3 separate regions of the Homo sapiens genome follow, and regions 1 and 2 are each linked to region 3. The links come from fine-mapping of genetic effects on gene expression. A gene starts in region 3. Each other region holds a variant in brackets. All regions are shown on one strand. Distances are from middle to middle. Region 1 overlaps SETD7 (SET domain containing 7, histone lysine methyltransferase). Region 2 overlaps SETD7 (SET domain containing 7, histone lysine methyltransferase). Region 3 holds the start of SETD7 (SET domain containing 7, histone lysine methyltransferase).

The links.
Region 1: its variant is fine-mapped to the expression of SETD7 in whole blood (INTERVAL, PIP above 0.99).
Region 2: its variant is fine-mapped to the expression of SETD7 in skeletal muscle (GTEx, PIP 0.99).

The regions. Positions count from the first base shown.
Region 1 is chr4:139,517,112-139,527,965 of GRCh38, reverse strand. SETD7 (SET domain containing 7, histone lysine methyltransferase) reads left to right here. Exons shown (of 8, transcript NM_030648.4): 5 at 4,531-4,612; 6 at 7,572-7,689; 7 at 9,924-10,081. Among named protein-coding and RNA genes, the nearest start is that of SETD7, 34 kb to the left of the region's middle. The variant G/AG (reference allele first, on the strand shown) is at 5,225.
Region 2 is chr4:139,504,899-139,515,752 of GRCh38, reverse strand. It overlaps SETD7 (SET domain containing 7, histone lysine methyltransferase), which reads left to right. Exons shown (of 8, transcript NM_030648.4): 8 at 3,910-9,715. The coding sequence ends at 4,090. Among named protein-coding and RNA genes, the nearest start is that of SETD7, 46 kb to the left of the region's middle. The variant T/G (reference allele first, on the strand shown) is at 6,282.
Region 3 is chr4:139,550,799-139,561,652 of GRCh38, reverse strand. It overlaps SETD7 (SET domain containing 7, histone lysine methyltransferase), which reads left to right and starts at 5,434. Exons shown (of 8, transcript NM_030648.4): 1 at 5,434-5,555. The coding sequence starts at 5,516. RefSeq lists enhancers at 4,277-4,446, 10,056-10,556 and silencers at 5,187-5,296, 5,517-5,576, 5,637-5,806, 5,937-6,126.

The sequences.
Region 1 (10,854 bases), 34 kb after region 3:
AGAAGAATCTCCAAAGGAAGCTTGTCCAAAAGTGGAAATTTTAGCATTTATATTTAGGTCCAATTTGGGTTGCTTTAAATGTCTTTTTTGTTTTTTTAAGTTAAAAATGGAGACAGTCTAAATGCAATGTGGGATTCTGGATTGGATCCTGGAAGAGAAAAAGGACATTAGTGGAAAAACTGGTGAAATCTAAATAAAGTCTAGAGTTTTGTACATAGTAATGTATCTGTGTTGGTTTCTTAATTTTGACAAATGTACCATGCACTGTAAGAAGTTAACATTAGGAGAAACAGTGAGGATGCTCTGTGCTTTCTTTGCGACTTTTCTGTATACAGTCATGGGCCCATAACAACTGTGGTACCATAAGATTATGCCATATTTTTGTTTTTATTTCATTTTATTTTTTAAGGGACAGGATTTCACTCTGTTGCCCAGACTGGAGTGGACTGGTGTTATCATAGCCCACTGCAGCCTTGAGCTCCTGAGCTCAAGCAATCCTCCTGCCTCAGCCTCCCCAGTAGCTAAGACTACAGGCATGCACCACAATGCCCAGCTAAATATTTTTAAATTTTTTTGTAGAAACAGGGTCTTGCTGTATTGCTCAGGCTGGTCTCAAACTCCTGGCCTCAAGCAATCTTCCTGCCTCGGACTCTCATAGTGCTGGGATTACAGACATAAACTACTGCACCCAGCTAAGATTATATCATATTTTTACTGCATCTTTTCTGTGTATAGATATGTTTAGATACACAAATCCTTCCCATTAGGTTACTGTTGTCTATGGTATTCCCTATAGTAACAAGCTGTACAGGTTTGGAGCCTAGGGGCAATAGGCTGTACCATTTATTAATAGCCTAGGTGTGTAGTTGGCTATACCATCTAGGTTTGTGTGAGTACACTCTCTGATGTTTGCATAATGACCAACTCACCTCATGACACATTTCTCAAAATGTATCCCCTTCATTAAGTGATGCATGTCGTATATTTGAAATTACTCCAAAATGAAAAGTTTATTTTTTTAAAAAAAGGAAGCAGTAATCTTTGAACTACAAACTGTGATATCTATGCCCTTGATCTATGTTCTGAAAGGAGACAGTGTTATAATATTTAGAAATGAGGAGGCTCGAAACAAGGGAGGATCCCAATTGGTGATGCCAGTTTTAAAACTTCAGAAGTAGCAGCATTTTTAGTGGCAGGTGCCTAAACTTAAGAATCACCTAATTTGAGACCTAGCTCTAACATTTACTATATTATCCTTGGGCAAGTTATTTATTTTTTCAGAACCTGTTTCCTCATTACCAAATGTGGATATTAGCACCTACCATAAAACACTGTAATGAAAGTTGTTATTACATTCTTCTTGCTATAAATAAGAAACAGTAGGCCAGGGCTGGTGGCTCACAGCTGTAATCCTAGCACTTTGGGAGGCTAAGCCAGGTGGATCACTTGAGCCCAGAAGTTCAAGATCAGCCTAGGCAGCATGGTAAGATCCTGTCTCTCCTAAAAAATACAAAAAAAAAAAAAAAAAATTAGCTGGGCATAGTGGCATGTGTCTGTAATCTCAGCTACTTGGGAGACTGAGGTGGGAGGATCACGTGAGCTCAGGAAGTCAGGGCTGCAGTGAGCTGAGTGCACTGCACTCCAGTCTGGGCGACAGGAGTGAGACCCTGTCTTTAAAAAAAAAAAAAAAATTGTTGAGAGTGAGAATTCTAAAGGGAATTATTATTTTTTTAGAATTTCTGGTTGCTTTAGCTGGGTGTGGTAGAGTGTGCCTACAGTCCCAGCTACTCAGGAGGCTGAGGCACAAGAACCGCTTGAACCTGGGAAGTGGAGGTTGCAGTGAGCCAAGATAGCACCACTGCATTCCAGCCTGGGTGACACAGAGACTCTGTCTCAAAACAAACAAACAAACAAACAAAAACAAACAACAACAACAAAAACCTTCTGGTTGCAAATAAACATTCACTTCAAATTAACTTAACGCAGAAAAGAAAGGGGGGATTTATTGGCAAGATTCCTGCAGACCTCAGGTGTTTTGAAATGTTGAATAGTTTGAGCCTCAAAAGGGCCAGGAACCATGGCTGCTCTGGCACTCTGAAGATCCTATAGACCGATCTTTAGTCTAATGTTCTGCCATGTTTGTATCTCTCCTCTGCCCCTTCCAGTTATAATTATTGACCTGCTGACTGGCCAGTGGGTTAGGGGGTACAGGGTCCTGTGACTGTAGCGTCCAATGGTTGGGGAAGGAGAGAAATTAATGCAAATATCTCACATAAAACACTCCTTGACCTGTCGCCTCACCAGCTTCTCCATTTCTCTGTGTGCTTTTGTAACCACAAACTACTTCTAATTCTCTACTTACTTCCTGTGGAGTTTCTCACCTATGCCACTGCTTCTCACCTGATCAGCCCTACTCCACATAGTAACTGCTTTCCTTGGCTAATTCCTACTCCATCTTTAAGGCTTAACTCACTTTTTATAATGAATGTTTGTCCATTGAATAAATGAATTCTAGTCAAAGGGCATAGCATACTATAGAGGAAAGGAGGGAAAGTAAAGGATGTGTAAAATCTGTAAAAGTAAAGGATGTGCCTGCAGCCTGGGCATGTCTAAGGCAGCAGAAGAAGAGACAGTAGGCATTGGAAGAGATAGTGTGCACTCCCTGAAAGCAGCAACAGAAGTTAATCCTTATTGTATCTACACAGTCCCTAGTGTTGTACATGTAGCTGGCACTCAGTAAATTTGTCATAAAAATTTTAGTCTAAGGAGCTAGATGGAATTCATAGGAAAATTTCCACTCAATAGAACATACATTCCACACACAATTTTGGTTATTTATAAAAAGTGACGGCTGGGCACAGCAGCTCACGCCTGTAATACCCGCACTTTGGGAGGCTGAGCCAGGTGGATCACTAGAGGTCAGGAGTTCAAGACCAGCCTGGCCAACAGGGCGAAACCCCATCTCTACTGAAAATACAAAAATTAGCCAGGCATGGTGACAGGCACCTGTAATCCCAGCTGCTTGGGAGGCTGAGGCAGGAGAATCGCTTGAACCCGGGAGGCAGAGGTTGCAGTGAGCTGAGATCACGCCATTGCTCTCCAGCCTGAGTGACAGAGCAAGACTGTCTCAAAAGAAAAAAAAAGTGGGGGAGGGTGGTTTAAATGCTTTTCGTGGATTGCTTGGTGGTCTGTTACCACTTTGCTCTCAGATCCAATCCATTCATCATTCTTTCACTGCCCGCTATTATTGCAAGAGGCTGCTGCCCCTTGCAGCCTGCATTTTTCAGGCTCCTGTGTGTCTGACTTCTGTCTGAGTTTGGCCAAAGGGAGGCCACTGGCTGGCTGGGGACAAAGCAGGAGAAGGCAGCAGGAAGAAGCCCTCTCTGTGTCAACCAGCATCTCCAGCAGTGGCCCCATCACCTCCTGATTCCATCTCCCATGAGGAAGGCCCAGGCTAGTTCCAACTACCCCAGCTCCAGAGCTCCAGGAGCAGCACTGTGCCCTCTGTCCCTCCGGCCTCCAGTGGCAGCTTCCTGCTCTTGCCAGTGTCTGGGCTCTTCACGGCTCCATCTGGCTTGTCAGCATTCCATCCCCTGTATGACCAATTCCCTGAACTGAATTCTTTTTGAAACACTCAAATGGTCCGTTTCTGTGCGGACACTGACTGATTTGGATTGGTTTCTGACTTTTAGTTTCAGGTATTCATTGGGGTTTTGGTTGTACAAAAAAAGCCACTCACAAACAAACAGAAAGAGGACCTAGTAACCATTAGTAACTACTGAAGAATTGCTTAATGGGATTATGAGTTTTCCCTCAGTGTATATAATCATTTGTTTTGCAGGAGTAAGCCCTCTGATTCTAAATCTTGTTTCTTTACCTATCAGTCTTCAGAGCATCTATCTTTAGTGCTGTCTGTGAGGATTCTCTAAAGCTAATCCTTCACAGAGAGCCAGTGTTCCTTCTAGGGTGGTTGTGTGCCTTGATTTCTAGAGTAAATTACTAATTGGCTTCTGAACTACCGTAATAGAAAGGAGATTACTTTGTTAATGCTTTATCAAAAGCAGTGCTGTTCTCCTTAATTCTGGTGAGGCAGAATTTTATTCTTAGTGAAGGAGACAACTGCCAGTGTTCAGTTGTTGGATTCTGTAGACTGTATCTGTAATGAAGAAAACCACCAGAAAAATTTAAAACCATCATCCAATTTGATCTGAGCCAAGAGATCTCAGAATTTCATGACAAAGCATTTTATTGATTCCCAAGCATCCTTTAAGTCATTTTAATAAGGAAAATTCAAGAGTGAATTGGAATGTTAAGAGATGCATCTGATGGCTGTTCATGAAGGCCTGAAAATAAAACTGAAGCGTAAATCTAAAATGTATCCATTTAAATTGAAGAACTTCATTCTAGTTGGTATAACTTGATTAAGATTTTTGGTTTTTTAACTCTTCGTTGTCCCATGAATAGAGAGAAGTGTTATAAATGCTCTTCCCTAACTCTGCACCTATACTGGTATTTTTGTTTGCTTTTCAGATTCAGTGTACCACTTTGATAAGTCGACTTCATCTTGCATTTCTACCAATGCTCTTCTTCCAGATCCTTATGAATCAGAAAGGTAATTTCCTCCTTGGGGTTTTAATTGCACTGTTTATGTGAGGTTAAATAAGCCTAGTGGTAGGAACTTATGCACCTCTTTGGCTCTCTGCCCAGGCTGGGTTCCAGCTCAGACCAAGCTCCTCATGAAAGTGTCCTTTTCCTTTGCCAACCCTCAAATAAATATTTCTATATTCTGAGGAAGAGTGTTTTTATTCTTATGTAGAATCTGACCCTGTAAGAGAGTTTCCTCACCCATAAATCACAGAACAGCTTGTGTGTCTGTCCTAGAGTAAAACCTCCAGGTAGAAAGAGCAGTTGAGGCCAGGCATGGTGGCTCATGCCTGCAGTCCCAGCATTTTGGGAGGCCAAGGCGGGCGGATCACTTGAGGTCAGGAGTTCAAGACCAGCCTGGCCAACATGGTGAAACCCCATCTCTACTAAAAATACAAAAATTAGCTGGGTGTCATGGCGTATACCTGTAATCCCAGCTACTCGGGAGGCTGAGGCACAAGAATTGCTTCAACCTGGGAGGCAGAGGTTACAGTGAGCCGAGATCATGCCACTGCACTCCAGCCTGAGCAACAGAGCAAGACTCCATCTAAAAAGAAAAAAAAAAAAAAAAAAAAAAAAA[G/AG]AGCAGCTGGGCCAGGCAGCCAGCTGTGTCCTGGCCGAGCATTCCCGTTCTTAGGGTCTGTGCTGCAGTCACATGCTGGCCCTCTAGGGGAACATTTCATGCTCTTTAAAGCTCTAGCCTGTGCACACAGGATGCCTCCATTTCATCTTAGACCAGCGGAGGTGTTCTGGAACACAAGACAATTTCTTTTTTCACAAACAGAAGACAAGAGTGAAACAAAGAAAGTATAAGAGGCATAAAAACATTCTAGCTTATAAATGACAAGTTTCTGGTTTGTAAGCCCACTCCCAGAGGGTCACATCCTGTTCTACTTCATGTCTTATTTATGAGGATGGCTAAACTCTAGCTCTTGAGTCTTGATGTGGCTTTTTCTGGTACCCTCTCTGGGATTCTTCTTATTCCTTAGCAACAGATCTGTTTATGAATAAGCGTACTATCTGAAATTGGTTTTCTCTTTGCCTCGTGTTTTGTAAGCATGGCTTACCTCCCATTCAGTTTCTGTTCCCATCTGAGAAATAGGCCTCTTCCTCCATTCAACTGACAGGGCTGACCCCACAATGTCACAATGATGAATGGACTCTTTTTTGACATGAGGCTCTGGCCCAGTTACAAAGGGAAGGGTTTAGCTTCTTTGTTAGCTCCGAAACACAAGACCATAGCCATACGTGTTAGTCTTTTCTGTTATTATTGTTGTGATGAGGCTGCATAATGATGCCCTCAGAACTTTCAGTGGTTTACAGAATCAAACATTTTGTTTTACACCATAGTTCTATAGGTTGGCTGAGGTTCAGCCACTTCTGACTGGAATCAGCTAAGCTCAGCTGGCCTAGGCTGGACTCCAGGTTTCAAGTTGGGTTCAAGTCTGTTTCACATGTTTTCTTTACAAGAGAAACAGGGAGCAACAGCCCCCTAGGGCATATTCTTCTAATGGAGACAGTGAAAAGTCTGGAGGAGGCCAGCAGAAATTTGCCCCAGCCCTTCACACCTGAGACTTGCCTGCAGCCACTTCTGCCCATGTTCTACCAGCAAAGCAGATCAGATGGCCAAACGAGAAGTCAGTAGGGCAGGATGTATCCTCCACCCACCCTGAGGGAGGCACTACAAGGTCACGTGGCAAAGTGGCAGGATGTATATAATTCTATCACAGCGAAGAAATAAAGAGTTGAAAGCAATAAATCAGTCTTCCAGTTCATGAATAAGCATAAGAGCCATGTAACTAAAATTACAGATGATCAGTTCCTGTAGGGTCATTCCATCCCAGCGTCTGGTTAAATCCAGTTCCGTAATTATGAGCGCTTTTTTCTTTTTTTTTTTTAAGACAGAGTCTTGCTCTTGTCGTCCAGACTGGAGTGCAATGGTGCAATTTCAGCTCACTGCAATCTCCACCGCCTGGGTTCAAGTGATTCTCCTGCCTCAGCCTCCCGAGTAACTGGGATTACAGGCACCCGCCACCACACCCAGCTATTTTTTGTATTTTTAGTAGAGACGGGGTTTCACCATGTTGGCCAGGGTGCTCTTGAACTCCTGACCTCAGGTAATCCACCCGCCTCAGCCTCCCAAAGTGCTGGCATTACAGGCATCAGCTACCACGCCCGACCAGCTGTTTTCTTATAAACCAGTGGTTGGCAAACTTTTTCTGTAAAGGGCCACATAGTAAATATTTTAGGCTTTGCAAGCCATATAATATCTGTTGCAACTACTCAATTCTGCCTTTGTAGAGCTAAAGCAGTCATAGGCAATACTAAGCAAATGGGTATGGCTGTGTCCCAATAAAACTTTACTTACAAAAATGAGCAGCAGCCAGACTGGACCCTCAGGCCATAGTTAACTGACCCCTGTTATGAACCCTTTTGCTGGGAAATGCTTATTGGATATATCTTATTAATTGTTTGTCACTGTTGCATATAGAAGATACATCTTGAGGCTTAACTAAAACAGCCTCCTTTCCCTCCCATCTAACACTGACAAACTTAGATATAGCTTTAATTAACTTTGAAAAAATGTTTACTTGTCCAGTAAGGCAGTGAAAATTGTCATCAACTAAAAACATAAAATTCTTCCAAAAAATACCTCATATCAAGCACTGAGCATCTTTATGAAAATATAATGATAATTTCTATATTAGAAAGCAAATTTTAAACACCACTCCTAAAAGAGACATAACTACCGTTTGTTTAATTTCCAATGCCAAAATATTGTGGTTTAACTTTTTCTTCCTCCCTCCCTTCTTAGTTGGGTTATGAATTGACATTTTGGAATCAGTAGCCTTAATGATATTTTGGCAGTTGATGTAAGGAATGACATATTAAGCTGAAAAGGTCACTATTCAACTCTTTTTTCAATTTAGGGTTTATGTTGCTGAATCTCTTATTTCCAGTGCTGGAGAAGGACTTTTTTCAAAGGTAGCTGTGGGACCTAATACTGTTATGTCTTTTTATAATGGAGTTCGAATTACACACCAAGAGGTGAGTGGGGCTGACAGTGGAAAATCAACTTTGTTGGTTAAAGGGCTTTGCTTCAAACAAAATCCCTTTACCTTAGTACTCACTAGAAAGTTAAAGAAGCAGATTGGCTTTTTTGTAAAAATGATTGGACATTTTCATCCTCTTTATTTTAAGCCTTAATACGATTTTTTTTAAAAGTTCCAGAGCTATTTTATAGAGAGTGGGGTAATGCCATCAATAAGACAGTAATTGGTATATTAGACTGTACCAATGTCTTAAAAATTGAGATCCAGTCAGACTCTGTAAATAACTAACTCATGACCTTGGGTGGGGTGCTTTATAGGAAGGCCCCTTACATCTTCTTGTGCAAAAGCCATGCTATACTATATCCTACATTTTGTCAGGAAGAGTTCTTTTGTCAAAAAAATTAAAAACAAAATGTTAAAGAGTTGAATCACCTCTTACCTTTAAGATACAATCTTTGATATATGTCAAAGGCTTCATATATGTTTTCTGTTTTTGTTTCTTCACTTTACAGTTAATTTCCCTAAGTGTCTGCCTAAGGGCAAAAGTTCAATGTTTTTAGCACAGCTTATGCGCTCCTTCCTTGTCTGACTTATATTACGTGTATGGGACCTTAAGCTTATGGCTAATATTCCACATTTATGTTCACCTTTGCATTTATTCCGGTGGAACAGTAAGAGGGAAAATGCTGTGAAATAATAATAAAGTTATTACACTTTCAAAGCAGTTGCACAGGCAAAAGAGGGCGACGTATTCAAACTGCACTATGGTCTGTCAGACTACGTCCCATGCAAAGGCCAGACTTCTGTCAGCAATCCAGAGAAATTCAGCATACAAAGGGTGACTTTGGGATATTGATATATGATTTACTTACTCATTTTACAGATAGGGAAACGGAAGCCTAGAGAGATTACACAACTTGCTTAAAGTCAAAAATACAGCAAATAGCAGAGTTCAAGTAGGATTTCAAACTGCAGAATCTGGCTTTGTGCTGAACCTCAATATGCTCTATTGTATAAATGAATGTGACACCCTTCTTGCCCTAATGAAATTTAGATTCTGTTGGGGAGATAAGAAAAATACACAACTAATGGCAGCCTAAGGTAGATGGTACCAAGTGCCACATATCAGTATCACATGACTGGTTTTGAATATTAAGGTCCATGAGGCTTTTTTCCACTTTTGATCACTGCTGTATCCCCTGCACCTAGAAGAGTGCCCGGCACATGGTACCGCTTAGTAAACATCAGTTGAGGGACTATCACATATGAATAAAAGCACAATTACAATTTAATAGTGGGGGAAATGGTATACCTTGAGAGTCAACAGTTTTGTATGAAAATGTCATCCTGTTGGCTTCAAAAGGCTGGGCTGCTGTCATCACCAGCTCCTGGGGTGAGTTCATCAGGAGTGGTTTGGAGAAGAGAAGCCTGATTGTTACACTGTTAGTAACCCCTGTTGTAGATAAGAAGGCATGCTGGTAATCGATGGCTGCCTCCTGGTCACAGTGATTTCCCACCTGTAACAAAGGTGGAGGACTTGCCTAGAGTACATTCTTGCATCCCTTACATTTCTGGTTCCATTTGTGTTCTTACTTTGTTTTTTTTTCTTTTGCCTCCTCTTCTTTATCTACTTTTAATACAAGCTATCCAGTTATATTTGTGTGTGTTTTCATCAGGGACTTTAAATCCTTTTTTTTCATATAGAACAAGGAAAAATGAATAAATAGTTAAGTCGAGCTGCCTGGCACTGACCACACATGTCATTTGCACTCTCAGTGTGTGGAGACATGCCTTGTTTTGTTTTGTTTTATTTCATTTTGTAGTGCTCAAACCTTGAAGTTTTGGCTGAGTGTGGTGGCTTACACCTGTAATCCCAACACTTTGGGAGGCCAAGGTGGGCAGATCATCTGAGGTCAGGAGTTCGAGACCAGCCTGGCCAACATGGTGAAACCCCGTCTCTACAAAATATACAAAAACTAGCCAGGCATGGTGGTGCACACCTGTAATTCCAGCTGCTCAGGAGGCTGAGGCACAAGAGTCGCTTGAACCTGGGAGGCAGAGGTTGTGGTGAGCCAAGATCACGCTACTTGCGCTCCAGCCTAGGTGACAGAGTGAGACCCTGTCTCAAAAACAAAAATAATAATAAGATAAATGAGTTAATATCTCTGATGTCCTTTGACCTTTGGGGAGAAAGGTCCTCTCTAAGGCTCGCTTTCTTGTTTTCTGCAGGTTGACAGCAGGGACTGGGCCCTTAATGGGAACACCCTCTCCCTTGATGAAGAAACGGTCATTGATGTGCCTGAGCCCTATAACCACGTATCCAAGTACTGTGCCTCCTTGGGACACAAGGCAAATCACTCCTTCACTCCAAACTGCATCTACGATATGTAAGTATTACCCAGAGCTGCTGGGGCGGATCTATGCCTCAGGGCCCTGAGACGGAGGAGGGCAGTAAAAAGTGTTATTCTGCCTCAGATAAAGGCTGCTTCATCTGAATGACCATGGGTCCTCTGCTATCGGCCTCAGGGTTATGACTTGAAACTCAAAATCTAAACAGCCTCACTCTGTGGCTTTGGCAATCTAAGAAATGGAAAGTGCTTTGAAGAGGAGAAATGGTATGGAAATAGTATACCACACCGAGGGGTTGCTGTTTTATAGCCGCTTTTCTTGTCCTTCAGTTTTCTCGTTTTGGACAATTAAAGATAGTGTTATTTGAAATAATAGTAAAAATTTAAATTACTCTGCACAGTGGAGAAGATGAAGGAGCCCTTTTTTTTTTTTTTTTTTTTTTTTTTTGAGATGGATTTTCCTTCTTGATGCCCAGGCTGGAGTGCAATGGCGAGATCTCAGCTCACCGCAACCTCTGCCTCCCAGGTTCAAGCGATTCTCCTGCCTCAGCCTCTCAAGTAGCTGGGATTACAGGCATGCGCCACCGCACCCAGCTAAATTTTGTATTTTTAGTAGAGATGGGTTTTCACCATGTCAGTCAGGCTAATCTCGAACTTCTGACCTCAGGTGATCCACCAGCCTCGGCCTCCCAAAGTGTTGGGATTACAGGCGTGAGCCACCTCGCCCAGCCGGGAGCCCTTTTATGATGTGAAAGAAAGAAGGAAAATAAAGTCCTAAGCCTAGGGCATGACATCTCAGCGTTGGAAAAGAC
Region 2 (10,854 bases), 46 kb after region 3:
AAATGGCTTAAAAATTTTCCTGGCAACGACTTGCTCTCCTTGGCAGCCCTTAACAAGCACTGAAGCTACAACTTCTGTTTAAAGGACGGGTAGAAATGGCAAAGGACATGTGTCATGTGAAATGAAACTGACACTGTGATTAACTCCAAGGCTTTCATGGCCAGGGTGAATTAGGCCAAAGTGTCATTCCAAGCTGCACACAGCTTAACAACAACCCTTTAAAGGGGTGGTAACAAACAATCATAAATGCTACTTAAGACCACTCCTTTAAAACAAACCAGGTTGTTGATTTCATTGCAAGGACATGATTTTTCTCACCAAAAGGAAGACAGCACAGGAGACAAGAGAAGATTTCATTTGTACAAAACCAAGTCCCTGTACTCTGCAGGTTTTCATTTTGTTTATTGTTGTTTGTTAGTTTGTTTGCAAGCAAGCCCAGGGTGACCAAATCTTAGTTATTTGGGGTAATGAGAAGACTACTTGAATAATAACCAAATATGAAATTCAGATACCAATTTATGGTATTCATTTGTTTCAAAAATCATTGGTATTGATATGTACCCTTTTTTTTTTTTTTTTTTTTTTGAGGTGGAGTTTTGCTCTTGTTGCCCAGGCTAGAGGTGCAATGGTGCGATCTCAGCTCACTGTAACCTCCACCTCCCAGGTTCAAGTGGTTATCCTGCCTCAGCCTCCCAAGTAGCTGGGATTACAGGCATGCGCCATCACGCCTGGCTGATTTTTGTATTTTTAGTAGAGACGGGTTTATGCCATGTTGGTAAGGGTGGCCTCAAACTCCTTACCTCATGTGATCCACCTGCCTCGGCCTCCTGAAGTGCTGGGATTACAGGTGTGGGCCACCATGCCTGGCCCTGATATGTACACTTTAACATAAACAAAACACTTCCATAAGCTGTTTGAAACGCAATCTAGTACAAAATGCCAAATGGACAAATAGATAAGAGCTGCTTTCCTAGACAACCTGTAGACAAGAGGCTAAGCCACTTGGCACAGAGGTTTGGTTTGACTGCTAATCGTGTAGCTCACGTTTATAGACCACTCACTACGGGCTGGTGCTGTGCTAGATGCTCTTCATGCATTGTCTCATTCAGTCCTCCCAGTAACTCAGTGAGGCCACTGCTATCACCATTGAGATCACAGACAGGAAAAGCAGGTCTCCAAGGCAGAGCAGTTAAGGCTCTTAACCACTGTGCCTTTGGGTCATCTTCAACAATCAACACCTGAAATTGAATTCTTTCTTTTCAGTCTGTCCCTTATCTACACTCTGAAAATGATGATGATAATGAACAGGAAAATGTAAATAAAAGAGGATTATAAGAGAAGCTCTAGGCCTGGAAATTCAACACAGGGTCTGTTTTTTGGTTTTTTTTCAGTGTACCAGAGGTTAACCAACCTGTATTTCAGGAACATTTTTTTTAGTGAAATATGTTAATTTACTTTAATTTTTTTTTTCTGAGATGGGTTCTCTGTCATCCAAACTGGAGTGCAGTGGCATAATGTCAGCTCACTGCAACCTCTGCCTCCCAGTCTCGAGCGATCCTCCCACCTTAGCCTCCCAAGTAGCTGGTACCAACAGGTGCACACCACCACCCCTGGCTAATTTTTTGTATTTTTGGTAGAGGTGGGGTTTCACCATGTTGCCCAGGCTAGTCTTGAACTCCCGAGCTCAGGTGATCTATCCGCCTCAGCCTCCCAAAGTGGTGGGAATACAGGCATGGGCCACTGCACCCAGCCAAGTGAAATATTTTAATTTAAGCAAAGAGTTGTGATTTTCATAAGGAATTCCTGAATCCACAGTCCACGCATCTCTTTGTGGTGGAGTACAGGCTGATAACTGTTCACTTTTGTGTTCACACATGCATGCTCACAGGCAGGCAGTAACCAATATTAGTTGAATCCTACTTTGTGCCAGGCACTGTATAAGGTGCTTTCTATATGTGACCCCATTTTGTCATGACAAAGACCCTATGGGATAACTATTACTAGTATTATCATGATTTTACAGATGAGGAAAGTGAGATTCAGAGATATAAGGTGAACTTTCCAAGAGGATGCAGTAAAAATGTGTTGAATCAGGACTCACACCAAAGTCTTCTGACACCAAGTGTCCTTTCCACAAAACATGATATGATACCCAAGAGGGTGGACATAGAGGCCCCTTTGGTGTGAGGTAAAGGTTGTTCCTTTTTACTCCACATAAAAGAAGTCCCAAAGCTATAGACATGCCCATTCCTCCACCACTGATAGAAGGAACCAGCCAAGTACTTACTATCATGCCCCAAGCACCAATCTTTTTTTTCTTTTTTTTTTTTTTTGAGACAAAGTCTCACTCTGTCATCCAGGCTGGAGTGCAGTGGAGCAATCTCAGCTCACTGCAATCTCCACCTCTTGGGTCCAAGCGATTCTCGTGCTTCAGCCTCCCAAGTAGCTGGGATTACAGGTGTGCGCCACCACACCCAGCTAATTTTTGCATTTTTAGTAGAGATGGGGTTTCACCACATTGGCCAGGCTGGTCTCCAACTCCTGACCTCAAGTGATCCACCCCCCTCAGCCTCCCAAAGTGCTGGGATTACAGAGGTGAGCCACCATGTCCAGCCGCCAAGCACCAATCTAACTTAGGGCCTGGAACCTTCTCCTTTGCTGTCTCACCAACCCTTTGTGCAAAATATGACTATAAACTGGGCACAGTGGCTCACACCTGTAATCCCAGCACTTTAGAAGGCCAAGGTGGGCCAATCACTTGAGGCCAGGAGTTCAAGACCAGGCTGGCCAACATAGCAAAACCCTGTCTGTACTAAAAATACAAAAAATCTTCTGGCCATGGTAGCACACACCTGTAATCCCAGCTGCTTGGGAGGCTGAGACATGAGAATTGCTGGAACCTGGAAGGTGGAAGTTGCAGTGAGCCAAGATCATGCCACTGCACTTCAGCCTGGGCAACAGAGCAAGACTCTGTCTCAAAAAAAAAAAAAAAAAAAAAAAGAATAAGAAAAAAAAAGACTCTAAATGAATGAGATTGATTTGACCAGATGCATATAAAAATAAAGCTGATTTCTTCTGGCCATGCCTTACATGTATCCATTTCAGCAGCTGTTAGGTGAGCTAAGTCTATTTATTGCTTATTTATCTGCCTGTTCTGCAGGGAGCTGTGCAGATGAACAGGATTGGGAGCCTTCGGCAAATGAACATAGCCATAGTGTTAACCTCGTTTCTGGTCCCAAGAGGACTTGTTGTAGGAAGGAGATACTGCTCTCTTCATAGGATGCTTCACAGGGAAATACTAAATAAACAGGTTGGCAGAGAGGTCTAGACTTCCCTCTTGGGAAGAAATCTTCATCTACTTTCATGCTAGAAAATAATATTTCCTCTCTATGTATAGGGTGGAATACAGAGTTTTTGCCTTTGAAAATCCACAGGGCTCTTTCTTACAACTCCAAAAGCACTCTGGTGAAGCCTTCTCCCTGAGATACAGCCACGTAATCTGATGCTGCTGGCCAGACAAGCTCAAATGCTGGCGGGCTGCACTGGATCTGATTTCTCATTAACGACAGATTTTTGTTGTTGATCATGATTGTTGGTTTATAAATGCAAGGTGCCAAATATGCTTTAAAAAACAGAGCAGTGCTTTTCAAACTTTAATACACCAGTGGATCGCCTGGGGGTGTCGCTAAAATGCAGATTGCAATCCAGCAGGTCTGGGATGGGGCCGAGATGCTCCATGTCTAATAAGCTCTCGGGTGAAACTGATGCTGGGTGACCACACTTTGGGCACATACCAGGTGTGCCCAGGGAAGAGTGCCTGGGGGTGATTCCTGTATCAGCCCCTCCCTAGCCTTTGCTTCCAACCTCCTGGTCTGGCCCGGGAATGACTGTGTGCATCTTGATGTTTAGGTTTGTCCACCCCCGTTTTGGGCCCATCAAATGCATCCGCACCCTGAGAGCAGTGGAGGCCGATGAAGAGCTCACCGTTGCCTATGGCTATGACCACAGCCCCCCCGGGAAGAGTGGGCCTGAAGCCCCTGAGTGGTACCAGGTGGAGCTGAAGGCCTTCCAGGCCACCCAGCAAAAGTGAAAGGCCTGGCTTTGGGGTTCAGAGACCTGGAATAGAAACTTGGATCTATGCACTACGTTTATCTGACAATGGGACAACCAGGGACTGCTCATGCTGTGACGTCACATCCTCTCACCATGCGTTAGCAACGACTTTCTCGCATACTAACTAGGTTTGACTGTATTACTCATACCAGATTTAAAATTAGCTAGCCTTGCAACAACGTCCTACTGAGAGGTATTGTCGAGCATTTGACATAAGACAGCGTGATGTTCTTTGGTGGTTCAAGTCTAAATCTGTACCACATTCGGAGATGCCAAATGATTAGACTGAAACAGGGAAACGGGGTTTTTCAGTCATTTTTAGTCAGTGGTTTTTCCATAGTGCTTTTTTCCTATGGCCAGTGCAAATTGTGTTAGCACACTTGCATATGTGCCGTATTAAGGGTTGACAATTACTACATCTTTATTCTCTAAATGTAGTATAATTTGCCTTTTAACCTTTGATCTGTATCTTGCAATAGAATGGCTTTGGTTTTTTTCTTAGTAAATAGGAGCCCACTTCTAAAGTCATTTCACCCCTCAGCCCTATTCTCTTTCTTAGATACCCTTTACAAGAGAAAACTTCCAAATGGATTTTTGCATCAATAGCAGTGTGTAGGTCTCTCTGGTTCTTTCTATATCATCATTTTATTATTATGTCCTAATATAAAGTACTGGCTCATAGGGCCAGGGTATTATTATAGAATATTATTCTCGCATGTAAACAAAGATATCTTTGCTTTAAGATGTGAGAAGAAATGAATTTACTTTGTTTGCATTAAGTTATGGAAGAGTTGTAATATATACTTTAAGAAAGAAGAGAAGAAAACTAGTATCTCTAAGCGGTAACTATGGCAATTTTGCAATATTTTCAGTAGTGCTAGTAATTTTTTCCTCCTTGAGTACACATTAAATGTACATAACATAGCGCGGTCAGGCTTGTGGCACAGTGCATTGAATTCAAAAGTCAAACAGCAAATTTGAATTCTAACAGAATTCAAAAAAAAATTTTTTTAGTCAGTACTACTAAGGCAGACACACTGATTACTAGGTACAAATCAAACCTTGATGCTAAAACTCTTCATCATTGTAATTTCAAAGCACTTACCTGCTTCAAAACATTGTAAACTAAGACTGAACACCTGTATAGTTTAAAAGCAACACTATCAATAGCATTTCAGCCATTTTGCCAGCCATGTGTAATCACAACTGCAGAAATAAGGAGAAAACCCCTGTTTTTTTAGTTTAGCTAATTAGATCTGTAACATCACTGGGATTGCTCTGAATGAATCCTGAGAGTTTTGTTTTTTATAAGCACCCTCACCACATGCCATAGCTTTGTCTCTTTTAGACACCTCGATGCAGCGGCTGGAAGGACTGGAGAGCAGCTGTTGTGCTGATCTGTAGCTGTCAGCTGTGATTCCTGTCACCTGAGTCAGTTTGGTCTGGAAAGCGAAGGCCTTCCAAGCTGTAGCAGATAGTGAGCTCCAGCTGATGAGAGAAGGCTTCAGTGGAAGAAGAGTGAGGACATAGGCAGAAGGAAGTTTGCTATTTCTTGTCAGTTGCACATTGCTTTATGAAGACTACAACAAAAGTGCTTAATCCCAGGCTGCTCATGACTTTCATTTCAGGTGGCCCTTGGGCACATTGACAGAGTTGCCCTTCCCTTCTTTGCAACACCAGGCTTCCTAGAGCACCCGGTTGCATGCTTTGCAGCTAGGTGGCAGTGGTTTCAGGGAGATCCAGTTGGATCCCTGCTTGAAAGCTTAAGCCAATGGTTCACCCATGAGAGGAAGTTGTCAGTGCTTCCAGGAAGATTGCCCACCAAAGGAACTGAATAGTTTTTAGATTTAAAGGCACCAGGATAGGGTCACTCTTACTCTGTAGAAAGAGACCGTTCTATACACTGTGACGGATGGGCCAGGGCCTCTGGACTTGCATTCTGATAGGTGCTTTAATTTAAATGTGCCCAAAGGGAGTGACTGTCTTCAGGAGAAAGATGGCTTGCATTAACCTCGATCAAGTGGGTTGTGCAGCCAGGTCAGGGAATACGGTCAGGGAGAGGATAGTGCTGGTCATGCCCCCGATGCAGCTATGCTCTGAATGATTTCATTCCTGAGAGTGATAGCATTCTGGTCCTGGCTGCAGTGGGGTACAATTTACGTCCTAAG[T/G]GGGGGCTACTCTAATTATCCCATTCAAATGGAATTTTTTTCAACATTGGATAGAAGGAATTGAAGAGTTGTAAGTAGTGATTAGTCTGCTAATCAGTTCTTCAGATGAGATATTGAATGGTAACACTCTGAGCTTAAAACTCAGCAGTGTGTCTGTGACCTCCACGCAAATCAGAGGAAGCAATGCATCCACGCTGAGCCTCACCATGTCTTCCTCCCAACTCTCTTCATACTCTCTGTGTCTTCCAGCTCTTCTTTCTCTGGCCGGCTCTCTTTCCTCTTCTCTCTGCATATGTGAGAACGCCTGGGCATCCTGGGTAACAGCAGCCCCAGCTGCCCTCTCCTGTTCCCTGTTCCAAGTCCCCTGCACTGACCTTTCTTGAGTCTCTCTGGCTCTGTGCATGTCTTTGGGACTCTGCTCATCTGGCTTTTCCTCTGTGTGTGCCTCTCTGTTTGCTTATGTCTCTGGCTCTGTCTTCCCCACCCCTCCCCTCACACACACACATACTCCCAAATGTAAGGCTCTGTGGCAGGTTGGAATCGGAGTAAGGCTTGAGATTCACTGAGTTCTGTAGGTAGGGAAAGAAGTCAAGGGAGTGGAGGTTCTATAAGGAATTAACAGCTGAGGACGGAAGGGTTTGTTTCCCGTTTGAACCTAAACGCAAGTGGAAAAGAATACTCAGAATGTATTTTTCTACTTTACATCTGCTGGGGAAGGAAATGTGTCAGGAAGCCGCTGCATCTGGTCATTTCATCGCATCAGAATCACAGCAGACGTGGAAGATTCCATGTGGTGGGGAATAAAGAAATAACTTTATGCTCTCCTGAAAAACAGCGGGAGCCTATGTGTGTGTGCGACACTGTAATCTCAAGGAGATTCACTCAGAGCTGTCTCAGTCCAACTCCTGCATGACCAGATCTTCCCTTAGCATCTTTTCTGTGATGAAATATTATCTTGTGTTAGAGTTAGGAATAGGAACTAACCTGTAGGAGCATGTCCCCAAATGGACATTTGAATGGACTAACAAAAACAACTGGAAAGACTGAATTTCCGACACAAAGGAATGATGGGATCAAAAAGAAAGCAGTGAGGAGTTCTTGAGTCTTGTAGTACCTATTCTTATTTTAACTTGCTTCATCCTTGATCTACCTGAGACACTAAGAAGGAAATTAGTTTTCCAAGAGCTCTTTGAACCTGTCTAGGACTGTAGTTAAACCTATTTGCCCTATGGGGGTTCTTCACACTCGAAAAACTATTTCCTTATCACCAACGACCCACCCAGAAAGGCCAATGAGGCCAAATGTAACAATTTTTAACATTTAAATATAACTATTAAAATTGCATTAATTGTGAACAGTGAATTAAAGGGTTGTCTTCTCCAGGAGACAGTATGTGGCACTTTTCGTAAATTTCATTTAATATATAAAAATTTAAATCACTCACTGCAACATGCATTTAAAATCTTCCAAGAAGGTAGAGGTATCATTTTCTGTTTTGCTTTGTTTTAAAACAGTTGCCTCAAGCTTCTGTCTTAAGAGTAGTGACTTAGAATCCAGATATCTTTTGTTTTAGAAAAACAAGCAAAACTATGTTGCAAGACTGACAGTTGTAATGTTTATTTGCCACAGATCAAAGGTTCACAAAGTATATCAAATTTACATCTACTTGGGGTACCTTGATAGATTATTATTGTTTTTCTTTTATCTTTCCCTTCAGGAATTTGGAAACTCGTTGTCACTTTTTTTAATTTTAAAAATACTAAATTGTAATAGTTTTCTTTTGCCAAATGTGTGCGTACATATTCAAAGCAATGAAACTATTTCAAGCCATACAACCACAGGGGTGGGAACCCTTTTCACAAATTTTAATGTGTTTGTATGTAAATAGATGTTTGTATGAAATATTTTCATGATAGAATGAATATATTTAAATGAAGTTGAATTATTCCAGTGCTACTTAAACACATTACAAAAATTTTGGTGAGAATTATCTGAGTCTATTGAGATGTAATGCAGATCAATTTTGATTTTTAAAAATCAAAAGCCTACAATAACTCTGACTCTCAGCAACTTCCTCGGCGTTGTTGCACCTGACGTGGAGAGAGCTCGTAGGCTTCCCCAGTGCCTCAGCCGCTTCCTGGTGGAAGTTAGGTGCTAATGGAGGTGTGTTCACCTTTTAGTGATATCACTGCAGGCCTTTGAGGGGCCTGAGAGTGAATCAGAGGCATTAGAGACACCGGTGCAGTTATCTGGAGCACAATTTCTTTGCAGGGCAGCAGAATCAGAAGCCAGACTTGGCCATGTGAACCTCGAAACTCGGTTTCCCGGCCGCCATCAACCGCCACCCTTACTGCCTAGTCACACACGTCAGGGAGGCTGCCCTCAGTGGAGTTGGGGTTGAGACCCCAGGGTGGGACTTCACAGTTTTGCCAGCAATCTCTACCTTCTGACTTCTGCCTCGCAGAGAGGAAGGAGAGGGGAGCATCTGGCAAGGGGCCCATTTCTCAGCACAGTACATTTCCTGTCTCAGCTCTGGAAGACTATGCACCCAAGCACCAAACTTCCAACCAGAGAGAGAGACGTCCTCCGATAACAAAAATCCTTGCTTCCTCTGTCTGTGACTTTACACACAGTTGTTCAAAGTTGTTAAATGTCAAGAGTCAATCACATCCCTAGGACATACCTCCCAACTCTCCTGACTCTTATGTTATTGAAAAAACAAACAAACAAAAACTCCTTTATGATGATATTCAACTTGAGTGGGGTTTTTTTTCCACTTTGGTCCTGGATATAATGAAATGATACATATTAGGATAAATTTTCACTGTGTATAGTAGCAATACGAACACACATGCCAATGTATCAACATATCTACTTGGTTACATTTTGGTTTATGATAATTAACCTTGATTCATGTATTGGGAAGCTACAGGGACTACGTAATACCTGCTTATCACATAGGAAAATTATGTCCATGATTCTGAGCTCCCTTCTTCAAAAGTTTCCTCCTGGGTGTTCTATGTTCTCTCTTTATCCTGAAATACATTTATTAGGTTGTGAGGTATGTTGAAGAAGTAGAAGCCAGGGGTATGCTTTCAGCATTTATTGCAACCAAAAGTTAACCCCATCACGGTTAACGAGCATCTTTGGTCTCTTGTGGAATTTGAACTAAAACTATGAGCCTTATTCAATATCTATAATTCTATGATTTTTTTAAATTATGGGAAATTAATGAAAGATGTTTACATGAATAATGTTTGCCCTTACTGTGTTATGAATGAGTTTTTTGTAGTGTGTCTGGGTGCATGATGCAAGAGAGTAGGAAAAATGTTTCTGAAACAAAACTTGACAAATATTTGTAATGAAAGTAAATTTAAAGATTGCTATAATTGCGCTATAGAAACAATGCAAGTATTAAACAAAATATACAATCATCTGTCATTGTCTTCCTTTGGTCATCTAGGTTAGAAAAGCAATAATGGTTTTCTTATAATGTGTCTACCTGTATATTTAAATTACTAAGTGAACTTTACATTTTAAGTTGTTTTAAAATATTATTAGCCATTTATCATTTTCAGAGCATTCTAGTAAGAGCGGAGGATTTGATATGATTCCACATACACCCATAAATCCAGAAGGATTAGCCACACCAACAGAAAGTGTCGGATTGAATACATACATGGTAAGGGTATGGAATGCAAATGAGATGATCAGGGCAAATAGCTGAAAGGAAACTTCAATTCATGATTTAAAGAAAATATAGAAATTTTGTTAGACGTTGTGGTAGATTTTGGCAGTCTGAGGATGAGTCTGAGCTGAGAACCCTGGCAATCCCTTATTCCTGCCCTAATCACAGTCAACATTTCCGTTTTTTTTTTAATCTGAGATGAAGTCTCACTCTGTCACCCAGGCTGGAGTGCAGTGGTGCAATCTTGGCTCACTGCAGCCTCCACCTCCGGGATTCAAGCGACTCTCCTGCCTCAGCCTCCCAAGTAGCTGGGATTACAGGCGCTTACCACCACACTCAGCTCATTTTTGTATTTTTAGTAAAGACGGGGTTTCACCATGTTGGCGAGGCTGGTCTTGAACTCCTGACCTCAAGTGATCTGCCTGCCTTGGCCTCCCAAAGTGCTGGGATTACAGGCATGAGTCACCGTGCCCAGCCAGTCAACATTTGTAAAGCACAAAAGCCAGTGACAAAAGGAGTCAACATAGTACCTCATTATTAGCTGGGCCTTCTGCCCAGGACCCCAAAGAAGTGAATTCTAGGAAGTTTGGCAGGGCTACACGAGGCACAGTTAGGCCTCAAACTGAAGCAGGCCATGAGATCTCCTGCTTTATTTTACCTCCCTCAGTTGCCCAATCCTTGATTTTATCACACTTCCTTCCATGGAAGGAAGGAAACAGAAACGAGTGAGATGACTGGGTCCAAACTGATGTTGGATCAGCTTTTCCACCTGCACAGACACATTCACATGCTAGATCTTTCAGGCAAGGCTTCACCCTCTAACACGCATGGGTCAAATCACAATATTAATATTCTTCTTCCTTGTGGGAAAGGGGAATACAGGAT
Region 3 (10,854 bases):
CGGTTTGTCTTTATTTTTCAAGTTTCTGCAATCCTATTGTTTTTCTAAAGTAATTTCTAAAACAGATGCCCCTTTGAAAACTATTTCCAATTTTTCTTTGTGTGTGTGTGTGTGTGTGTGAGGGTTTTTTTTGTTGTTGTTTGTTTTTTTGAGATGGAGTCTCACTCCGTGGCCCAGGCTGGAGTGCAGTGCAGTGATGCCATCTCGGCTCATTGCAGCCTCCGCCTCCCAGGTTCAAGTGATTCTCCTTCCTCAGCCTCCCAAGTAGCTGGGACTACAGGCATGCACCACCAGTTTTTGTATTTTTGTAATTTTTGTATTTTTAGTAGAGACAGGGTTTCACCATGTTGGCCAGGCTGGTCATGAACTCCTGACCTCAGGTGATCCACCTGCCTCTGTCTCCCAAAGCGCTGGAATTACAGGCGTGACCCACCGTGCCTGGCCTCATTTTTTTTTTTTCAATCATTTCACTCAGCAGCTTCACTAGGCCCAAGCCTGACATAAGAGTTTTCATATCCCATAATGCAAAAAACCCCAAGAACTCTGTGAAGGAACAATATTGGCCCAGAGTCGACCCAAACAGGGAGATCTGGGCTGCATCTTCCCTCCCCTCCCCGCCCCAGAAAGTCTAAATTTAGTTTACTGGATACCCTGCAATGACATTAACATGTCATTGCAACATTAACATGTTGCAAAAACAAGAATCAAGCAAAAGAGAAAGAGGAAGCTTAATGTGGCATGAGGTATTTTAATACCATGGCAACTGTGGTGTCTTCTCTATTATTTAATTCACTTCCTTAGGTCAGGTTATTCTGCCCTCTCTCTCTTGCACTTCCTGTTGCTGTAATCAAATCAGGTCACCCTGAATCTGTAAGTCTTCTTCCTGACTGCACTCATGTCTATTTCCAGCAGAATGAATTTTCTCCATTTCTTTCTTTGCTCCCTGGACCTTTATTTGGTGCCCTTGATGTCCCTGCTCTTCCCAGTGCTCCACAAGCTGCAAACGCTTCCCTTTCATCCCCATCTCCTCCCCCACCCGTCTCCTCCTCGCTGCTCCTCTCCCAGCCCCTCCCTCCAGCTTCTGCAGTTGTCACTAACACAGTTAGCCACTTGATTAGTGACTCAGTGATTCAGAACCCAGGAACCTTGGTTCTCCTAAAACTTCCATGCTTCCCTCCCTAGAGTCAAGATAAAGGTTCTCCCCTCACCTGCCTGCCCAGATAGAGCCATTAACGTGAGAGGACTTGAGTATTCAGTTTGTTGGAGTTGCCCTGGCTTCTTCCCATTTCCTTTTTATGTGCCTTTTCCTGGGGCTTCTCAGGCTCTATTTACCTTTTCTCCAGAAAAGGTGGACAGAGAAGGTTTGAGCTTCGAATTTATGTAGCCCAACTCTTCATTTACAGATGGGAAAACGAAGGCCCCCCCCCCGGCCCCCGCAGAACTGAATTGCCCAGTTGCTTGGCTAGTTCTTGGTGGAACCAAAACAGACAAAGCAAAAACTCAATCAAACTGGCTAATTTGGTGGGAAAAAATCTTGTGAAGGAGTGAGCAGTGCCAAAACGAGACTTGATGATTATTTAAAAGGTCTTTCACTAATTTTATCCTTGTCATCCTGCTGGCGGTGTAAGCAAGTGATGGAAACCAGAGCCAGGCCAGCAACCATAAAGCCACCAGGGCTTCTGGAGAGGCTCTGATGCGACTTCCTACCGCTGAGGTCTCAGAGGCTCCTCCCTCCCAAATACATGGAGACCCAGAAGACTGCTTGGGCCCCTCCACTCCCTGCCAGCGGGCAGGATGAGGAGTCAGTAACAGCCAACAGTAGTGAATCCCACATAAGTTCCACATTCACTACTTGTTTCACAATTCGCTTAGCATGCATAGCAGCGAATTGACAGAATTGTTTCCCCTAAATGTAGGAAGGTGCATAAAATACAAGAAGCTTGTAAAAATATATTTATTGCAAAAGTTATATCAGTCTTGTATGTAAGCACCAGCCTTCTCCAGGGAAAGACAGGGGTGGTAGAATGAATAAAATTAACTCAGTATTTTGACTGCTTGCTGCAATGGAAGAGGGAATTATGTTTCCCAAGCTGGGTATGAAGAGAAGGAATATAGCCTTGGAGGCAATGGAAACTAAGCCAGAGCAGCTTAGAAAAGTCACCCCTCCTCCTGATTCAAGACCAAAGACAGGGAAAAAAAAGTCACTCTCAGTGTGAACATGAAAGCAAGTCTCACCCAGCCTAGATGTTGGATGTCCTGTGCGGTCCCGTTCCTCCCTGGTAGAGCTTGTTCTGTCTCACTGGGATCTGCCAAGTTAGGAGCTGAGCCACACTACTTCTGCTGCTGCTGTTGCTGCTGCACATTGTTTGTGATTAAGAGTTTTATTGATTTTCTAGCCCATGACCACATTGGTGGGGACAGAGTACGACAGGGGAAACTGGTGGAAAGCCAAGTAGAAAGAGAGTTTATGAAATCAGCTCTCAATGAAGAAAACTGTGGGAAAGAATGCGATGGAAGCAGATTTGGGGCCAGTCGATGTGGGAAAGTAGAACAACTCAAAAATGCTCTTCAGATTTGAACTGAAACAAAGCACTTTGCCAAAACATAGGAGGAGAATCCAGTCTGTGAGAAAGCCTCAGCACTGTTTATATAAAACAGAATATTCCTATCTGCAAAATCATTGCTGACAATGCTTAACCCACATTCTGTACCAGGCACTGTGTTGTGTTCTAGGACCATAAATAAGAATCAGTCCGTCTAGAGAAGGAGACTCGAAACATACACAACATGATTTGTAAAGATACAAGTGGATCTTAAGAGAGTCATAAAAACATTTTGCCCCAGCTTTGGGCCCAGAGCCAGCAGGAATGAATGGTGGGGGAAGAGGGATGGGACTGTGTCCCTGCTGCTGCCTGCCTCATGTGCAGATCTGGTGAAGGTTCTCTGTAGTTTGACCCCGCATCACTACTGACTTTGCTAGAAAGACCCTGCTCCCTTCCTGTCCCTGCCTCTTGTAGGTCCAGAGGACCCCTGCTTCACCGACGGCGGGGGCCGGGGTTGGGGGGTGCCGTAGGCAGGGTTTCAGGTGTTCTCAAGGTAGTAGGTAGAAAGGGAGCGCTTGACAGTTTGGGTGCTTAGTACAGGCTGGGAAAACCTCACAGCACCAAGGGGACAGTTGGACACTTGCAACATGATTCCTCCCCTCTCCTTCACTCCCACACGTACCCACCCACCATGAAACTGTGTCTTCTGTACGTCTTGAGAGATTTCTTCCAGCCTCCCAGCCCTGCCTCACTGCCTTTGAGTAAGAGAATAAAGTCTTTTTGCTGCTTCCTTCAGCTTTCAGCATTGTTTTTCACCCTGAAAATCAACTGGAAACTGGGGAAGACGAGTATCTGGTATGTTTTAGTGCACCAGTATAATATGCAAGGGAGGGGGTGATATGTAAAAAGGTTAAATGAGAAAAAATATCATATAATTCAAAACCAGTGAGTGACCGAGCTCAGTAAATGATGGCTTTTTAAAAATCAGATATAAAATCCTGTTTCTGTGGTTCATGTTTGAAAATGATGTAACCTAAAGTGGCTCTTTCATCTTCCACTGCACGTACACCTTCTCTGTTTAGCCTTGGACTCCCAGTATCTGCACTGGAGGACTTTAAGGAGGTCAAACCTAAGCCAAGAGACTTCAGAGAGGTATAGACTAAGCTAGAGGGTGTCTTGCTTGAGCCAAAGAACCTCAGAGTGCTCTAGCCTAAGCCCCAAGGACCTTATGTCAATGTAGACTAAGCCTCTAATCTGGAGGAATTCAGGCTGGCTGGCTGGGCTCCCAAGACACCTCTGCAGGTGAGCAGCACCAGGACTCAAGTCTCCTAACTTCTGGTCCAGGACCCTCCCCTTTCTAAAACAGTCAAAGGGGCTGAAATTCCTGGAAGTGTGTGGGGCTAATGTCCCTAGCATTGTTCTCTTTTTCATAGAGGAAAAGCTGACTTTAAGAAACAAGCCGGCAATACTTGACAAAAATATCTACCATTTAAGCACAGAGCCAAAAGCAAGGAGTAGTCTCCTGGGCGCTGGAAGTATTTTGAAATCCCCAAAGTCTCATTCATTGATCAGAAAACAAAATGGAATTACTTTTTTTTTGCTCCCTCCTCCCCTCCATGCAGTAGCTGTTCTTGGCGGGTGCCCAGAGCGGCACCCGGTAATTCCACGGTACATTGTGTACATTTACATCTGTTTAATCGGCTATTTACAGTCGCCCTTTACCGCCACCTGTAAGAGGCAGCGCCATAACGACACTAAGTGGCCGGGCCGGAAGCCGGGTGCCCAATGGTTTTCTCCACTTGAGGACGCCTGAATCTGTGAAGTGGTTGGCACTTGGAGAAACAGAGAGACAGCTGGGGACATCACACGTACAGGGCGGGAGGCGCGGGAAAGAGGCGCGCCAGACGGAGGGTCCTTCCTTCCTCGTTAGCTCCACTCGGCGGCTCCTTTTCCATTACCACAGCAGCAAGGAGGAACCTGCCGAGCCTTCGGTGCGGCTTGTTTCCTGCCTGACAGAGAGCCCGCTGCCATTTGGATTTGATGAATTTCTGAATCACCCGAGGGCCTGGCGACCCGAAGGAGGGCGGGGAGTGGGGGCGCTGGGGTGGACCCGCCATCCTGCGGAATCCGGGCCAGATAACAGCCCCCGAGCTGGGGAAATCGGCTTGCGGATGTGATGCGGGACCGCGAGGACACCTGCGCTCCCTTGCGTGTCGCACTCGTGCAGCTCCCGGTGGCGACGGGGTGATGTGGGGGCGAGGGTGAGAGGAAGTCCAGGCGCCAGAGCGTCAGAAACGCTTCCTTAGCTTCCCTGGCACTTTGGAGGTTGTCTCGAGGGAACACGGACAGTGCACGACGGACTTTCAAGTTGCTCCCGGCACAACGGGAGGTCGGGAGCTCGGAGCCCCTACGGGCGGTCCAAGTGTCCGCGAGAAGCCCGCAGCGCCCAGGACCGCGTTGAGCGCTCGGGGCGCGCCAAGCCGCACCTAAGCAAAAGAGAAACGCTGACGGGCCGGAGGCGGGTTGGCTGGGACGCGGAATACGCGCGGCCCCGGAGCGCCTTTCGTTTTAAGGAGCCTTACTTCTGGAAAGGGACAGGGAACTGTCAATCAGCGAGGGAGGGAGCGCACCGGCGCTGGGTGATGTCAGCGGATCAGCTGCTCGATAACAAAGAGAGGGTATTACAGGAGAAAGTTGCAGCAGCGGCAGCGGCCAAGGCGGCACACCGGAGCCTCCGAGGCGAGGGGCAAGTGGGCGAAGGGAGGGGGGACGACGGCTGCTGCCGCAGCAGCTGAAGGCCAAGGAATTGAAAGGGCTGTAGGGGGAGGCAGTGCGAGCCAGCCCCGACTGCTCCTCCTCTTCCTCCTCCTCCTCCAAACTCGCGAGCCCCAGAGCTCGCTCAGCCGCCGGGAGCACCCAGAGGGACGGGAGGCAGCCGCGCAGCCCCGAGCTGGGCAGTGTCCCCAGCCGCCATGGATAGCGACGACGAGATGGTGGAGGAGGCGGTGGAAGGTACAAGCATTTCTCCGGGGCCGGGGGAGGAGGCGCAGAGGGCCTGGAGCGCGGAAGGAGTGGCGGGCTGCGAACAGCGCGGCGCCGGGCCCCGCGGCCGCCACTGTCCCCTACACGGGTGGCCGGTTGCCCGGCTCGGGCGGGGGCCCGACAGCCACGGTCACGCCGCCGGGAGCGCGCACTGCGCGGCGGGGCGCAGGCCGAGAATGGGGCTCCGCCAGGCCGGGGGCGCTGGAAACGCACGGCCGCTCCATCCCGCCCGGCCACAGCCTGCATCCACCCTCGGAGTTGCGAAACCTGCCCCGCGCTCTGGCCTTTCCGCCTTTGGGCGCGGAGGGTGGGTGCACTCCGCAGGGCAGCCCCTTGAGGCCGGCGGACTCCGCGGAGCAATCCCCTAGCCCAGTTTTGGCCACCCCGATCCCCTCCCGGCCGCCAGCCCTTCCCTTCTGCTGCCTCTGCGCCCCGCGGCGGCCGCGGCCCCGTCCGGGTAGGTCCCCCGGCGCAGCGCACGGGGCCAGACCAGGCACGTGGCAGCCGCGGCCCAGGCGGCAGCTCTTCCGAAAAGATGAAATCATTGTCGGGCGACGGACAAGTCTCCCGACCCGGGACTCGAACGTGCGCCGTCCGGGAGGCGGGCAGCCCTCCCCTCAGCTGCCCCCGAGCGAACTCAGTCAGGCCTCCCCCTCCCCCTTCCTGCTTGGCTGGGATGCAGCCGCCACGCTGTGCAGGCGCGCCGCGAGTCCGCACCGAGATTGCTGGGTGACACTTAACTTTCTGAATTCCATGCCGTTGGCTGTGGGTGATATCACCGCCTCAGTGTCGTGTTTCTCCGCCCCTTCTCTTCTACCGCCCCTCCCCCGACTTTTCTCGCCACTTTGTTTTGCTGAGTTTCTCCACCTTTTTTTTTTTTTTTTTGTTAGTTCTGAAAAAACGATGTGGGGACGTTATACAATCTCGTTGTTTGTATCATAGGATGTTATGATTTTGTAACAGCGAATACTGGAAAATACTCTTTAGCGTATTTATTTGGTTCCACTCCATACAGTACGTCGTGATGTTTTTCAGTGTGGTGTGGTATGATACCAGAATGTTTTAAACTAAGCATGTGAGTAAATAATTTTTAGCTGTTGGTTGAATCTGGTTTCTGTCTGATTTGTATAAACACAAGTTCTGACGAAGGATAAAGAAAAAAAGTGGCGACACTACAAATGCATAAGGATACATGGTTATTGTTACACTAGGGAAAAATCAGTTTTAATGTTTTCATAAACATAACTCCCTTTGCAGTGCTTCTGAGATCTTAAGGGGAGATTAAGCAGACTAATATTTCTGAACTCTTGAAAAGTATCCAATGTAATGCCAATATTAAAACTTATTTCTTCATCTAACTTCGAAGCCAATTAAAGACTGTGGTTTTTGTTAAGAAAATTTTCACCATGTTGTGAACTCACAGAGCTATTTATCTCTCTAATAAATAAAGCCAATGTTGGGGCTTACTGGAGTGAGGCCCAGATACATTGATTGAGTTGATCCACAGGGAGCCTTCTGAGAAGTTAAAAGTTGTTGACTTCTTGTGCCTCCATGTTGTGAAAGATAAAGGAAAAATGATCTCAGATTGTTAGGGCTTGCTCTCTTTCTTCAACGTTTACTTTTACTTGTAAAAATTAAATACAAACCCTTAATTGCTGGTACTGTTCTCCATGTTAAACCACATCCATTCCCCTTTGAAGCTGTTTACAAACATATGTCCAGTTGTCCATAGTCCTCAGGCTCCTTTGCAGACTGTGACCAAGAGCTTTAGAAATGGCAGTATTGTTTTTTGAGAACATCCACTGGATTCGAAAACAGGGAAGTTCATATAAACAGGGATGGTTTTGTTTTATAGGGTAATTATGTACATTATTGTCCAAAATCAGAACCCCCTTGAGAATGAGAGGGCACACTATTAATAATGATGCTGGGGCAGGTAGCTTAAGCCTTGAATGTCTGGGGCAATCTGGGACACATGGTCACTCAGTTGTAGCTAACTAAACAATTAGAGCAGCACAGAATCTTTAAAAGCCCCTAGAAGCATCTCAGGCTCTAACTTGCACAGTGCCAGGAGTGTGTGTGTGCACATGCAGTAAACCGTACCTGTGCGTGCACTCTTGTCCAGCCATTCTTGGCCTTTTTAGTGCTGTTTGCAATAGTCTTTACATAACATCTAACACTTACATAGGGGACTGGTATAAACTGCTTCTGTTCTTTCCCAAAGAGAAGCTAGTCTGAATATCTTAGTGTTTAAGTACCAACTAATCTACCTCTTTCCATAAACAGAGCCTCTGTTCTCAGTAGTTTCATTGTCATAGCTATTATTATCATTGCTATAATTGTTTAGTTCTTATTAAGTGCAGGCTCTGTGCTAAGTGTTTCACAGACATTATCCATTCAGTCTTATTCAGTCTTATGAGGTGGGTACTAATATTATCCTAATTTTACAGAGGCGGGAACTGAGGCATACAGAAGTTAAGGACTAATCCAAGAACACTCAGTGAGGTGGAGAGACTGGCTTGGACTTCCAAAACAGCCCTCCACCAGACCAAACTGTCTTCCTACATTTTTTATTTTTAATGAGTTAGTCAAATTTATGAAACACTTGATAACTGAGTTTGGAAGCAACAGTTAAATATTATGTCAGTGCCATTTTTTATCAGTGTAACTCTGTAGAGGTTGGTTCTGACAGAGTTCAGTGACTTTCAGAAAAATGTATTTGGGGAGAAAGAACCTGTGTCCTCTGCAATAGCTATCTTTTTTCTTCTTCATTAGAGATTTACTCTGGGGAAGAAATTAGTCTCTTCAGGATTGAGTTTAAATGTCTTATATATCATGTGCATTTGGTTCTCTGTCAGGGTATGATTGTAACTCTGGGAAAGTTCTGAACTCAGAGTGGACAATTCCCTGAGGTGAGGGGAGTGGCGGAGGCTGTGTCGAGAGAGTGTTCTGTGTACTGTGTTGGCTGTGCTCTTGTGGGAAGAAGGCAGCAAGCCCTGGGCCTCAGAGGACCTCAGAGCTCCACCTGAGCTCTGGTGTGGCTTTTGGAAAACACTTTGAGACACACTGGTTCAGTGAAGAGTGATGTTTAGTTTTCCAGTGTTATTCCCCTGGGCATCTGGAAACAGAAATTTATCACAGCATCTATTTCTTTGTCTACCCATAGATACAAAGATGAATATGATGTGGTCTCTAATATGATTTCAAATAAATATATCTATACAGATGAATTGTGATGGTTGAGAGGAAGTAAAAATTAGTTCCAGCTTAGGGAAGTCAAAGGGGAAAGATTTTCCAGAAGAGGTGCCATAGAGCTGAGTCAGGTTGAGAGGGGAACTTTGTGAGTGAAGACACGGAGGCATGGAATTCTGCGGGTGCACCCAGAGAACAGTCATTTGATTTTGCTGCAACATGGAGCTTACAAGGAGAAAAGTGGAGGGGAAGACAGGGAAAGGAGGCTGGGTAGCAGGCTGAGAGCATGGACTGTGTGCTGGAAGCCATGGAAGCCGTGGGGGCTCTTTAGAAAAGGGAATGACAGGATCAAGGCTCCACTCCGGGAAGAGGAACAGGCAGTGGCCAGCAGGACAGTCAGAGGGGCTGACACAGCAGATGAGGTACCTTGAAGTCTCTTTGCAGTGGTCCAGATGCACAGTTATGATGGCAGGAAAAACAGAAGGGCCTGGAAATGTGTAGGAGACATGGAGGAAGAATGATCAAAAAGGGGAAATATCAGAACAAGGGGCCAGAATGAAAATAAGCAGCTCAGTGTTCCACTGCCACAACCCCTTCAAAATATTAAGAATATTTTTTATTAACACTCCCCCTAATATCAGATTCTACTTGTCTCTGCTAAGAGTGCTCATGCCCTGTATCTAGGGAAAATGCATATGAAGTGTATTTGTAGCACCCTTTCTGTGTGGGCCACACATTAAAATCATGACCCTCACAATTAATAGATGAACCCTTGCCAACAATTACCCTTAAAAAAAATTATCCAGGTAACAAACTTTCATATGTACCCCCGGATCTAAAATAAAAGTTGAAATAATTTTTTAAAAACCTAAAAAATTAAAAAATTTTAAAAAGATCAAAACATCAAGTTATGTTTTTAAGAGTTGGTGATTGAATGCATCACCAGGAGGGCATGTTCTTTGCATTAAACAGAATAAGCTTGCCTTTTATTATTGTTGTTTTTTGTTTTTCAATTTATTTATTTATTTAATGAGATGGGGTCTCACTGTATTGCCCAGACTGGTCTCCTGGGCTCAAGAGATCCACCTTGGCTTCCCAAAGTGCTGGGATTACAGGCATGAGCCACCGCGCCCGGCCTATTAATTGTTGTTTTTTAAAGCAATGTTCTAGTGTACAAAACCAACAGTGTGTGCGTAGGGTCTCTGGTTCTAAGGGAAATACTCACACGCCACTCTCAGATCTCTTGTGAGTAAGCCTGAGACATTAAGCAGCTGGGTGTCTGATCCAGAGGGAATTTACTTTGCTGAGATTGAGATGTACATTGCTGCTTAGAATATAGGCCTGGCTCTTATCAGATTCAGGAAGAAGCTCCCTCAGAAGTAACTAGAGGGGAAAATTGTAACTTTCTATCTGTTCAATAGATAATGACCATAGAATAAAGTGAAAAAGTAGACTTGTGAACTGATACTTTTTTCCTTTCTCTAACTTCTGTAAATATTTAAAATCATGCTACAGACAGATACACAGAACATTAGCTCCGGCAACCTTAAAAACACAGAGCAGTCATTCAAGTTAATTTTCCCTGTTGCTTGGGCCTGGTATTCACCCTCTGTTCAGTGGGAACTCGCCTGGAAGGCTGTTGGCTGACTTGGCGCATTTTACAAATTGACCTCATGCAGAGCAAGGAGGACTAGTGTTTCCCTTCAAGTTAGATAACACTTGGAAGAGATAGGACTTTGCAACCGGGACATGCTGTTGGAAACCTGGTGGTTCTGTGTGAATGATCTTAACCACAAAGCCTTCTTCCACTTCCCTGCCAGGGACCTGGGGGTTCCTACCTTTTTAGAGGTACCTTCTTACCATCACCAAGGAAGAGTGTGTTCAACTAGTTTGCCAGTGTCTAGAATGGGAATTAAAGGATTTGGAGAAGGGGCTTTCAGTATTCATCAGCACACTCAGTGTGGCAATGTCTCTTGGGCAAGTCTCATAAAGCATTGGTGTCTTCATCTGTAAGATGAGAATATGGGAGACTGTTTTGAGGCTTACATTTGATAACAGGAAAGCATATAACCCAATG